Homo sapiens: one gene and its partners. The protein of the gene in region 1 purifies or fractionates together with the protein of each later gene. This does not show direct contact. Each region holds a gene or a part of one and is shown in the gene's direction. Other genes may lie near its edges.

Region 1 (3,647 bases):
TTCCTTCTGAACCTCCTGTAGCACTTTGTACAGAATGGCAAGTTCAGCTTGGTTGGAGGCCAGAGCCATGGTCTTGTTGGAAATAAGTACCTGATGTGAGGTACAAAGACCTGGAAGCAAAGCCCTGCCCCACCGTTTCCCTAGTTACGTGACCTGAGATAAATTACTTGAGAAAAGAATATTAAAGTCATCCAGCTCATGGGTTACTGTGAGAATTCAGTAGAAAAATACCTATGAAGGCACCTGGTGTACTGCGGCAGTTGGCCAGTGTTTACACAGCATTTTTTTTAGGGCAGAGAAAGATACAAATGAATCAAAATGGTTCTGAGCAGGTAGCTCGCAAAGAGGAGAAAGCCTGGACTCTGCGGACCTGGCTTCCTGTTCTGCCCTGTGTGGCCTGAGCAAGTCCTGGAACCGCTCTAAGCCTGTTTCCTCAGATGAGAATTGGGAGGAATCATGATGATAATAATAATAATAACCATACCCTTAATTATCTCTTAGGGTTGCTCTGAGGACTAAAAAATATAAGATATCAGCAGACATGGGATAGGAACTAAAAATTTAGCCTATCCTCCCCCCAGATTTAGCATCGTGCTGGTGATAATGCTCCTTATTTTTAAAGATAGTCTTAAACCATGTCCAGGTGTTTTCTGTTGACTCAATAAGAGCCTAGGATGCACTTCTGACAAAATGTTTGCAGTCCAGTATAAAACTTTACCTTAGCCAGGCATGGTGGCACATGCCTGTTATCCCAACCATTTGAGAGGCTGAGGCAGGAGGATCGCTTGAGCCCAGGAGTTTGAGGTTGCAGTGACTGCATTCCAGCCTGGGCAATAGAGTGAGACCCTGTTTCAAAAAACAAGGACAACAACAACAAACAACAAAGAAAACCTTTACCATCTCTGGAAGCCACCTTTTGGGTGGCAAAACACCAATAAAAATGAATGAGGGTGGAGAAGAAGAGGAAAGAGAAGCAGCTAATGAGAAACGGAGGGCCAGCGTAGGAGCAAGAAGAGACACTCGGTCTACCAAGTTTGATAAGATGAAAGCTTTCTTCCCGAGCTCTTCTCCCCTTGTCTGCCTTGAGCCCTTCTCTTCTGTCCTTCTTTCCATTGAAACCTTCACGAAGGCAAAGCCAACGAAGATCTCAGAGAGTGCAAGGGGAGGCACAGTGTGGCAGGAAGAGCACCTCCCCCGCAGGCTGAGGAAGCTTGCCCACACCGCGGGGCTCCTGCAGCTGCAGCCTTACTGACTAGGCTGATTCCTGGCAACAATGAGGCTGGGACGGTGTGACAATAAGAAGGAGAACACCTACCACGTATTGAACTTTCAGTGTTTGCTCTACCAGTACGTTCTCAGTGAACTCTCAACGAAAGTCTCATAGGGCAGTTCTGCAGCCCCTTCTCTTTGCCCAGTCATGGAGTTAGTAAGCTGCAGAGGCAGGACTTGAAGTCAAGTCTCCCACTCCACCGTCCCCTTTCAGCTAAAGATGTCTGAGCAAGCGTTTCTGGGTGAGGTCATTCAGAAGTGGTTTATGCCAGCAATTTGTTTTATTCATCTTCCTAGAGGAGGAAGTGGTGAATAAGCTCTTTTACTCATGAGTAAGTGGAATTTATTTCTGACAGATTGTTAATTGGAGGGTCGTATAAAGATTTCCCCATAGAACAAACATGGCTTAGACTTGAGGGGCTAGCTGGGGAGTAGCCTGCAAGTCAGCCCAGAAGGGTGAGGTTACCCCAGTGATGCTGGTGCTTCAGACACTGAGGGAGCTGGGAGAAACTTCTGTCAAAGTCATAGAGCTCATCACGGTGTCAAACACTTCTGAGAGGCCAAAGTGAGAACCAAAAAGGCCCATGAGGTTTAGCAGTGAGAAGGTAGGTTGCTCTCCAGTGTCTGAGATCACATCATTCATTTCATTCTATTTCTACTCAAAAGATTTTCAAGGGATTGTTCTCTATCTTGTCACCAGTTTTGGGGAGTGCACTCTCTTTAGGGTCACTCTGTGTATTCCCTTGCCATACAGCTTGCTGGAAGTCTCTTTTCACTGAATTTAACCACCTGATTGTTAATGAAGATAGAGATGCACCTCTGCTGTAGCTGAATAGCTCAACAGTCTCCAAAGTTAGCTATCCAAGTCTTTTCTGGACCTGGATGTTTAAATCAATCAGTACATCTGCAACTGTAATGGTTATTTTTATCTTTTGACATATCTCACCTGAATCTGAACACAATCTAATGAATCTGATGTATTTTTCTTAAACTTTTTTTTTTTTTTTTTGCTGTGAAATAGTCTAGTCACGCATTTTGGTGGCTAGAAGAGTGAATTAATAGTAGTCTAATCACCCTGGAGATGCTATGCTTCTGTGAGCTGGCACTGAGGTAAGGTGGCACATCTCTGTGGGAATGACAAGTGAATGAATCTGCTCCTCATTTAACCTGCTGTTCTTTTCTCTCTCTCTGTTTTCTCTCCTAGGAAACAAATGGAAGACTGCTGCGACCCTGCCCATCTCTTTGCTATGACTAAAATGAATTCCCCTATGGGGAAGAGCATGTGGTATGACGGGGAGTTTTTATACTCATTCACCATTGACAATTCAACTTACTCTCTCTTCCCACAGGTTAGTATAGAGTTGGTTGCCTTCAGTATGGTTTCTTAAATTTCTTGCTGTCATAGAAAAGGGATAATTGAGTTTGCCTTACTCATCAGATTGACTTTTTGTTTTCTTTCTTCTCTCTTTAAATGTTTTTCTTTATATCTGTCATCTGTGTGTGTGAATAAATCACAGTGTTTTGATGCAAGGGTGGAAGCAGGATGTTACAGAGTTACAGTTTTCCTAGCCTTTCTGATTTGAGTCCTATGAGACTGAAGGAAGCAAGAAATGAATGATCAGGGACTTGTGGAATTCTAGTGTTCTGAGGTTGGCTGTGGAATGACCATGAGGATTTGTGTGATACTGGAATGTTTTCTTAGGACTGATGTTGCTCAGGGAGTGGGGACCATATGGTGAGAAGTTTGCTTCTTAGAGCTCTTGAATGTTAACCCTGTGGTTAGATTACCACTGTGAAATGGAGGAGTGGTGGATATGGAGAGGAATAATTCAACTTGACCACTTTTGAAGTGGTCTAAATCAAGCTTTGCTTACTTAATATTTATTCTTGGTTTTCTGGGCATTGAAATAAAATGTTTTTCTAATATACATGTAGGCAGCAAGAGGGGGGAAAAGGGAAATTTTATTTTAGGGAACCCTAGTTTTGGGGAGGGGAGATCTTAGGCAAAATTGCAATTAGGGAAAAATTCAGAAATGAATCATGGCCTCCCCAAGACATCTTTTAGCCACCCTTGGTTTGCTCAGATGATTGTACAGAAAGAGAATTTTTAAGCCTTAGAAAGTGGGACTGAATCTTTCATGTGTCTCTGTTAATAGCCCATGAGACTTTAAAGGAGGAATCCCACAAAGCTGAGGCACAGGTTCTACCAGATCCAAAGTCACACTCTCTATAAAACAGCCATGCTGACTAGCTCATCCTTAGATATTTTAGTCTAGTTTAATGGTCTTAAAATGCAGTGATAAGGTTTTTCTTTTAATTTTTGAAATAAGAAGTAGAAGCTTTAGTTTATTGCCAGCATCTACATGTTTTCTCTCTTC
Region 2 (3,647 bases), on another chromosome or scaffold:
TAAAGACATCCTCCCTGTCTCCTTCCCCCAAACCTAGAAACCTCTGGGACCTCAGACTTGTTCTTCTGTCCACTCACAGGTCGCAGACACAGGTGCTCAGGTGGTAGGAAATTTATGCAAGAACTTCTTCCCATGGGTGAGCTGCATCCAGCCCAGAATCCGAGCCTGGCCCTTGCTCTCCCCAGTCTAATTTCCCAGCTTTGGCTTGTGAAAGTCACCTTCAGTGACTTTGACTCCTGGGTCATCCAGGCACGCCTTCCCCAGGTGTCCTGACATTGGCCCTCCCCTTGGCTGAGCTTGCACTCAAGTCACCCTTTTCCTGCCCCTCCACAGCTGCTGCTGCTTCCTGGCTCTCTCCTTTGAAATGTATTTTTTTTTCCTGAACTATGTTTTTAATGCTGGAAAAGCTTGTCCTTGGGAGTTGGGGATGGAGGGAAAGTGAATTAGGCAGGCTCTTGGGGGCTCCCATCAGTTAGGACTGGAGATATGGGCTGAGACGTACATAAATCCTTTGGGGAAATTCTGGTTGGGCCCTGAAAGAAAAGCAGACCTGTAGCAGTTTAAGGGGCAGTTTCAACCTGGATTCTGCTTCTAAGTTGTTGTATGACCTTGAGTGATATGATACTCTGAGCTCTTTGAGGCTGTATTATCCTTGATTTGTCCTATTTTGAGGCTCAGATGAGACAAATGAAGAACATTTGCCGAGTACCCTGCCATCTGCATGAACTTTGGCAGGTGGAGGAAGGAGTCTTAGAATACAGTGGGGAGCTATGGGAGTAGAGCGCTACCTCCTGCACCCATCTCAGCTGCTGAGGAGCTTGTGGGCCATAGCCTTGGCCCTGCCCCTTCTCTTTGTGCCAGAGTCTGGCCTGAAAATGCCCATTGTCTGGTGGTGCAGCCCGTGTCAGGGTCAGGAGACTGAAGCTATCCCGGCTGTCTCCAGGCAGCACCCCCTGGGGCTGTCTCTGGGCTGGGGATATCCTGGCATGGGTGACTTTTCCTACCAGAATGGGGATGTGGAGAAGGAGGCCGATGTCCCTAGGCTGGTTGCCTCTTTTTGTCCTTCTCATCCTCCCACCAAGGATATGAGGCTACTGCCTAGCAACCTGCTTGGGGCAAGTCCAGATAGAACTCCCTCTGGGATCCTCAGTCCCCAACTCCCTAACATAGATTGCTATGGTGACACTATGATTGACAACAGAGGGGTCCCAAGCATCTGATCCCCGCTATTAGAGTGTGGCTTCCTCTGCTTAGTCTCATCTCCACAGACCAAGGTGCTGGAGAGGGATCCAGTGGGCTGAGCCAGGCTTCTCTCAGTCCCCTTTGTATACTGGGCTGTCTGTCCTTCTCCTTTAGAGATCATTGTGTTTCAGGGCTGTGATCTGGACCCTCTTATTTTTTTCTCATTCAACACTTTCTCCTTGGGCAATTCTCATCTATTCCCATAACTTCAATTACCAGCTGTTAGCTGATGACTCTCAAATCTATGGCTTTTGCTCTAACCTCTATGCTGGGCTTCAGGCTTTTATATCCAACTCTTTCTAGATGCTTCTGCCTGCATAACCTATCAGGTGTCTCTGAATCAACTTGTCTAAGACTGAGCTTATCACCTTCCACCTCCCATTAAAGGTGTTACTGTTCCCCGCTACTCACCCCACAGGTCTCAGTAAATAGCTCCACCGTCTACTTAGTTGTTTAGCCAGTGACCTGAGAGGTGTCTTTATTCTTCTCCTTCCTCATATCCAGTCAGTCATCAAGTCCTGTCTGTTTTGCCTCTTAGCTCTCTCTGAGTTCATTGTCTACTTCTCTTCCTCCCTGCTGCCACCACACTCCTCAAGAGTTGGGATTTGGTGGTAGAGGGTGGAGCGGATGGCAGGGATTGATGCTCTCATGAGCTGTTGCTGCCTTCCAAAGTCTTTTTTTTTTTTTTAAATCAGGGCTTATGAGCCTGTGTTTACTCTTCTGTATCCCACTCTTGTTCAATCACCCCTGACAGACTGTATTAGTTTCCTAGGGCTACCATAACATAGTACCACAAACTAGGTGGCTTTAAAGCCAAACAGAAATTAACTGTCTCACAATTGTGAAGGATAGAAGTCTGAAATCAAGGTGTTGGCAAGGCTGTGCTCCCTCTGAAACCTGTAGGAGACTCCGTCCTTGCCTCTTCCTAGCTCTGTGGTTTGCTGGCGGTCTTCAGTGTTCCCTGGCTTCCAGCTGGATCACTCCACTCTCTACTTTCATCCTCACGTGGCATTCTCCCTGTATGTCTCTGTCTTCACATAGATATCTTCTTATAAGGACACCAGTCATATTGGAGTTCAGGTCCATCCTACTCCAGTATAACCTCATCTGCAATTATCTTATTTCCAAATAAGATCACATTTTGAGGTACTGGGGATTAAGATTTATCAAAAAATGTATCTTTTTGTGGGGACTTAATTTGACCCATGACAGTCTGCCCTCTGGTGCCCCAAACTTCATGTTATCCCCACATGCAAAATATATTCACTTCATCTCAATCTCCCCAAAAGTTGTAACCTAGCTGGATGTGGTGGCTCCACCTGTAATCCCAGCTACTCTGGAGGCTGAGCAGGAGGCTGAGTCTCTTGAGCTCAGGAGTTCGAGACCAGCCTGGGTAACACAGCAAAACCCCATCTCAAAAAAAAAAAAAAAAAAAAAATCTTAACCCATTCCGGAATCAGCTCTCAGTCCAACTGGAGAACACAATTCAACCCATAATGCTGACCTTCTCATACGTCCTTCTCAGAGTTCTTCTGGGGGTCCCTGATCTAAGGTTCTTCCCAACATTGGGAACATCAAATCTGCCATGTAGACCCTGACCCTTTTTTTGCTTAGGATTTGATAAGGGAAGGGGAGCTTTGATGGAAGACAAGGAGATTATGCCTTTCTCTTAAAGCCAGTGTGGGGTTGAGCAGAGAGCTCTGATGGATTTTCTCACCTCATGCCTCTAGGTACGTGAACACACTCCTGAAACTCATCCCGCTGGTGCTGGGTCTGCAGGAACAACTGCGGCAGGCAGTGCAGAATGGGGACATGGAGACCTCCCATGGCATCTGTCGCATCGCTGTGGCCCTGGGCGAGAACCACTCCCGGTAAAGGGTGGAGCAGCTTGGGGTGGGATAGTAGGGCCCTCTAAGAAATGGGGTTCTGGAAGTCCCTGGAAAGGTAGAATGACCTGACTCTCTCCCCAGGGCCTTGCTGGACCAAGTAGAGCACTGGCAGAGTTTCCTGGCACTCGTCAACATGATTATGTTCTGCACAGGCATCCCTGGCCACTATCCTGTCAATGAGACCACCAGCTCCCTAACCCTCACCTTCTGGTACACACTGCAGGTGTGTCTGTGTGACCTCCAGTAGGACTGGGCTGTGGTGGAAGAAGGTGGATCATGGGCTTCTATGACTGCTGGTGAGGTGGCTAATTCTCTTCCCTGGCTCTCTCAGGATGATATTCTATCCTTTGAGGCAGAGAAGCAGGCTGTATACCAGCAGGTGTACCGGCCAGTCTACTTCCAGCTGGTGGATGTGCTTCTGCACAAGGCCCAGTTCCCTTCTGATGAGGAATATGGATTCTGGTCCTCAGACGAGAAGGAGCAGTTCCGAATTTACAGGTGATGGTAGCAGGCCAA
Region 3 (3,647 bases), on another chromosome or scaffold:
TGTGGGGGCCAGGCGGCTCCAGGGTGTGGGGAGGCTGTTAGGGAGCTCCTGTTTTAGGAGCATAAGACAAAGACAAATCATAAACCACTAAGCCTGCTGGCAGCTCAGATAGAGGCAAGTGCCATGAAGAGAATAAAGCAGAACAGTGTCCTCACCCGTGTGCAAGGGGCCTGGGGAGGGAGCGACCGGTGAGCAGAGGCTCCAGTGAGTTATGCCCTGCAAAGCACCTCTTGGGTGGAGACTGCAGGAGCAGACAGCAGTGTGAGGAGCAAAGAGGCGGCCTCAGGCGGCAGGCAGGAGGAAGCCCTTCATGGGCCCTGGGAGCCAGGGGAAGGAACGTGGGTTTTATTTTACCAGAGTGGGCAGCTGGTGGAGGGACAGGATCCGTTCTGTTTGCGGATGGTCATTGGCTCCTGTGTGGAGAGTGGGTGGTAGGCTCGCAGGAGAGGAAGCTGGGAGGAACCAGTAAACATCTCCTACCACATGCCAGCCTCACCTCAGCCACTGTGCCCAGGGTCGGGTCATCCCTGGGAAGCAGACCGACCCCAGCCCTCCACTTCCCCTACATCACCTCAGTTCCATGGAGGACCCTCTCACTTGGAGGCATGGCCTGGATGCTGTGGGCTTCAGAGGGCGAGAGAAGTGGGGTCCAGCAGGCCTTCACTGTCTGGCTGTGGAACTGGACCTCCCAGGAAACTCCGAGGCCGTGTGGAACATTTGCCCTAATGTAAAATCATCGGCTGTTTTCCCAGAGGGGAGGAGGCTCTGCGATCCTGGATGGAGCTGACTGCAGCCTGGGGCGCTCTGGGGGGCTCCTCCCACGTGGGGATGGCGTGCCCTCTTCTCAGGCCCCTGCGCTGCCGAGCGCTGCAGGAAAACTGAGCCCAAAGCAGACCTCCCCTCGGCACCTGCCCCGGAGGGGCCTTCAGGGCCAGGGTGGCTTCTGGACCTGGATTTTGTTGTGTTGAACGTGGTAATGGACACACTGCACGATTCGAGCGAGTCAGGAAAGGCCCTTTTGATTTCCATTGGAAAGTGCCTGGAGTTGTTGGGGAAGGGAGAGCTTCCTCAAGAGCCAGATCAGGCTTGGAGAGTGGAAGGGAGGAAGTGGAGGGCAGAAGAGGACTTTCAGAAAGTCCCGCCTCATCACGGGGCATACCTCCTTTATTCTGCTTCAGAATGCTTCTGTCAAAAGATTCGAATTACACAATTACAGCCCGCCCCAACAATAGGAACAAAACAATGTCTAATAACCCCAGTTAAGCCACAGCTTTGTGCTTTGCAAGCCTGTGCATGGAAGCAGAAGCTACGGCACAGGGTGTGCAGAGAGCCACCCCGCCACTCGGGCCCGAGCTCCACCGCTGCTCCCAGTGGTCCCAGAAACCCCAGTTACTTTCTGGGTCTCCATCCTGGCCTTAACAGACTGGCTCAAGGTGCACTGGCCCCAGGTGTCAGTGCCGTTGCCCCCTGGGGAACTCCCTCCGTGCAGGGCTCCTCACATGGTCTAGCCAGCCTCCAAGTGGTCTAGCCATGAAATGAGGTCCCAGGTCACCCCCTTCATCATCCTTGACCAGTGCTTTCCAAAAAAGCAGCTTTTTCAGAATTGAACAGGAAACCACCTTTCAAACTAGTCTTTGCTGATGCAAGGTTCGTGTGATTTTGTGTACAGTTCTTCTATAGATTTTTTGAGATAGCAATCTGTTTTGTAAAATGTTTATCTTTTAAAAAGAAGCTCAAATAGGCAAAGCCTCATTTGTCCTATGATGGTAACTTTTTTTTTTTTTTTTTTTTTTTTTTTTTTGAGACGGAGTCTTGCTCTGTTGCCCAGGCTGGAGTGCAGTGGTGTGATCTCGGCTCACTGCAACCTCCGCCTCCCCAGTTCAAGCGATTCTCCTGCCTCAGCCTCCCGAGTAGTTGGGATTGCAGGCATGTGCCACCATGCCCTGCTAATTTTTGTATTTTTAACTAAAGGAGGGGTTTTGCCATGTTGGCCAGGCTGGTCTTGAATGCCTGACCTCAGGTGATCCGCCCACCTCAGCCTCCCAGTGCTGGGATTACAGGTGTGAGCCACTGCGCCCAGCTGAGGGTAACTATTTTTAATGTGGCTGATGAATGTAACTATCCTGTCCCATGTCTCTGTCCCCAGCTGCAGAGCCCTCGTCGAGTGCTTGCCTTTTAGCTGCCCAGTGTCAAGAGTAAGCTAGCAAGAAATAATCTTGAATGACATTAATACAGGACTGCATTTTGCTCTTTTTTTTGGTTTTGTTTTGTTTGAGATGGAGTCTTGCTCTGTCGCCCAGGCTGGAGTACAGTAGCACCATCTCGGCTCACTGCAACCTCCGCCTCCCGGGTTCAAGCAGTTCTCTTGCCTCAGCCTCCCAAGTAGCTGGGATTACAGGTGCCTGCCACCACACCCAGCTAATTTCTGTATTTTTAGTGGAGACAGGGTTGCACCATGTTGGCCGGGTTGGCCTCAAACTCCTGACCTCAGGTGATCCACCTGTCTTGGCCTCCCAAAGTGCTGGAAGTATAGGCATAAGCCACTGTGCCTGGCCACCTTTTGCTCTTGAAAAACATTCTGATCTGCTTGTTGCTCTGGTTGCTGAATCTTTTTTTTTTTTTTAAAGGCCAGTGCAGTGGCTCACGCCTGTAATCCCAGCACTTTGGGAGGCCGAGGCGGGCAGATCACGAGGTCAGGAGTTTGAGACCATCCTGGCCAACATGGTGAAACCCCGTCTCTACTGAAAATACAAAAATTAGCAGGGCATGGTGGCGGGCACCTGTAGTCCCAGCTACTTGGGAGGCTGAGGCAGGAGAATCGCTTGAACCCAGGAGGCGGAGGTTGCAGTGAGCCAAGATCGTGCCACTGCACTCCAGCCTGGCAACAGAGCAAGACCCTGTCTCAAAAAAAAAAAAAAAAAAAAAAAAAAGGACCGTGTAATCCTCTGTCCAGCATCTGGTTGGTTTGTTCATTTTAGGAGTTGCGGGAGCTTCAGGACGAGAAGGCAGAGCTGCAGAAGATCTGCGAGGAGCAGGAACAAGCCCTCCAGGAAATGGGCCTGCACCTCAGCCAGTAAGAACCCCACTCCCCTTGTCTGCCACTGCAGGCACACCAGGCTACCCACCACATCCCTCAGGCCCCAAACCTACCTCCTTTTGGCGAACGGAGGGTGGGCCATTTAGGAGCTCAGTCCGCCGTTCACGGATGAGCTCTCAGGAAGCCCGGCCTCAGAGGGGCCCAGCACTGATCTCTGCTACCCACATGGGGTGTCAGCGAGCTCTTAGTTAATTCAGGAAGCACGTTCATTCCTAGTGACCAGGACACTCCTATTCCTTAGCTTCATATCCAGGGCCTGAGGGAACAGATGGGCAATGAGAGGATCGCTTGGTCAGCCTACAGTCAGGCCAGAGGGAGCAGGGCTGGTTTGGGAACGGAAGCCTGGCACAGTAGAGGTGCACTCACCCGCCTTGCACAGCACAGCCCCCTTCCTTTCGGGGAACTGGCCACTGCATCCGCCAGAGTCTGTCTGTCTCTGCTGCAGGTGCTGATGGGGTGCAGACCCTGGTAGTTCTGCTCCCCTCTGACTTGACAGCTCTCCTCCTTGGTGTCCCAGTCTAGATAGGTTGCTGTGGACGCCTGGGCCTTG

What was found.
Region 2: the proteins of ST8SIA1 (region 1) and IPO13 purify together in Homo sapiens (affinity purification with mass spectrometry; 3 studies listed by BioGRID and IntAct, with this or other methods). This does not show direct contact.
Region 3: the proteins of ST8SIA1 (region 1) and RUFY1 purify together in Homo sapiens (affinity purification with mass spectrometry; 2 studies listed by BioGRID and IntAct, with this or other methods). This does not show direct contact.

Annotation. Positions count from the first base shown.
Region 1 is NC_000012.12:22,286,120-22,289,766, reverse strand, and holds part of ST8SIA1 (alpha-N-acetylneuraminide alpha-2,8-sialyltransferase), read left to right. Parts: intron 1-2,473; coding exon 2,474-2,618; intron 2,619-3,647. UniProt on the Homo sapiens protein: Catalyzes the addition of sialic acid in alpha 2,8-linkage to the sialic acid moiety of the ganglioside GM3 to form ganglioside GD3; gangliosides are a subfamily of complex glycosphingolipds that contain one or more residues of sialic acid.
Region 2 is NC_000001.11:43,953,348-43,956,994, forward strand, and holds part of IPO13 (importin-13), read left to right. Parts: intron 1-115; exon of another isoform or gene 116-136; intron 137-2,972; coding exon 2,973-3,113; intron 3,114-3,212; coding exon 3,213-3,354; intron 3,355-3,462; coding exon 3,463-3,629; intron 3,630-3,647. UniProt on the Homo sapiens protein: Functions in nuclear protein import as nuclear transport receptor. Serves as receptor for nuclear localization signals (NLS) in cargo substrates.
Region 3 is NC_000005.10:179,598,914-179,602,560, forward strand, and holds part of RUFY1 (RUN and FYVE domain-containing protein 1), read left to right. Parts: intron 1-354; exon of another isoform or gene 355-476; intron 477-571; exon of another isoform or gene 572-722; intron 723-1,159; exon of another isoform or gene 1,160-1,185; intron 1,186-2,978; coding exon 2,979-3,073; intron 3,074-3,150; exon of another isoform or gene 3,151-3,353; intron 3,354-3,463; exon of another isoform or gene 3,464-3,647. UniProt on the Homo sapiens protein: Activating adapter involved in cargo sorting from early/recycling endosomes. Regulates retrieval of proteins from endosomes to the trans-Golgi network through interaction with the dynein-dynactin complex.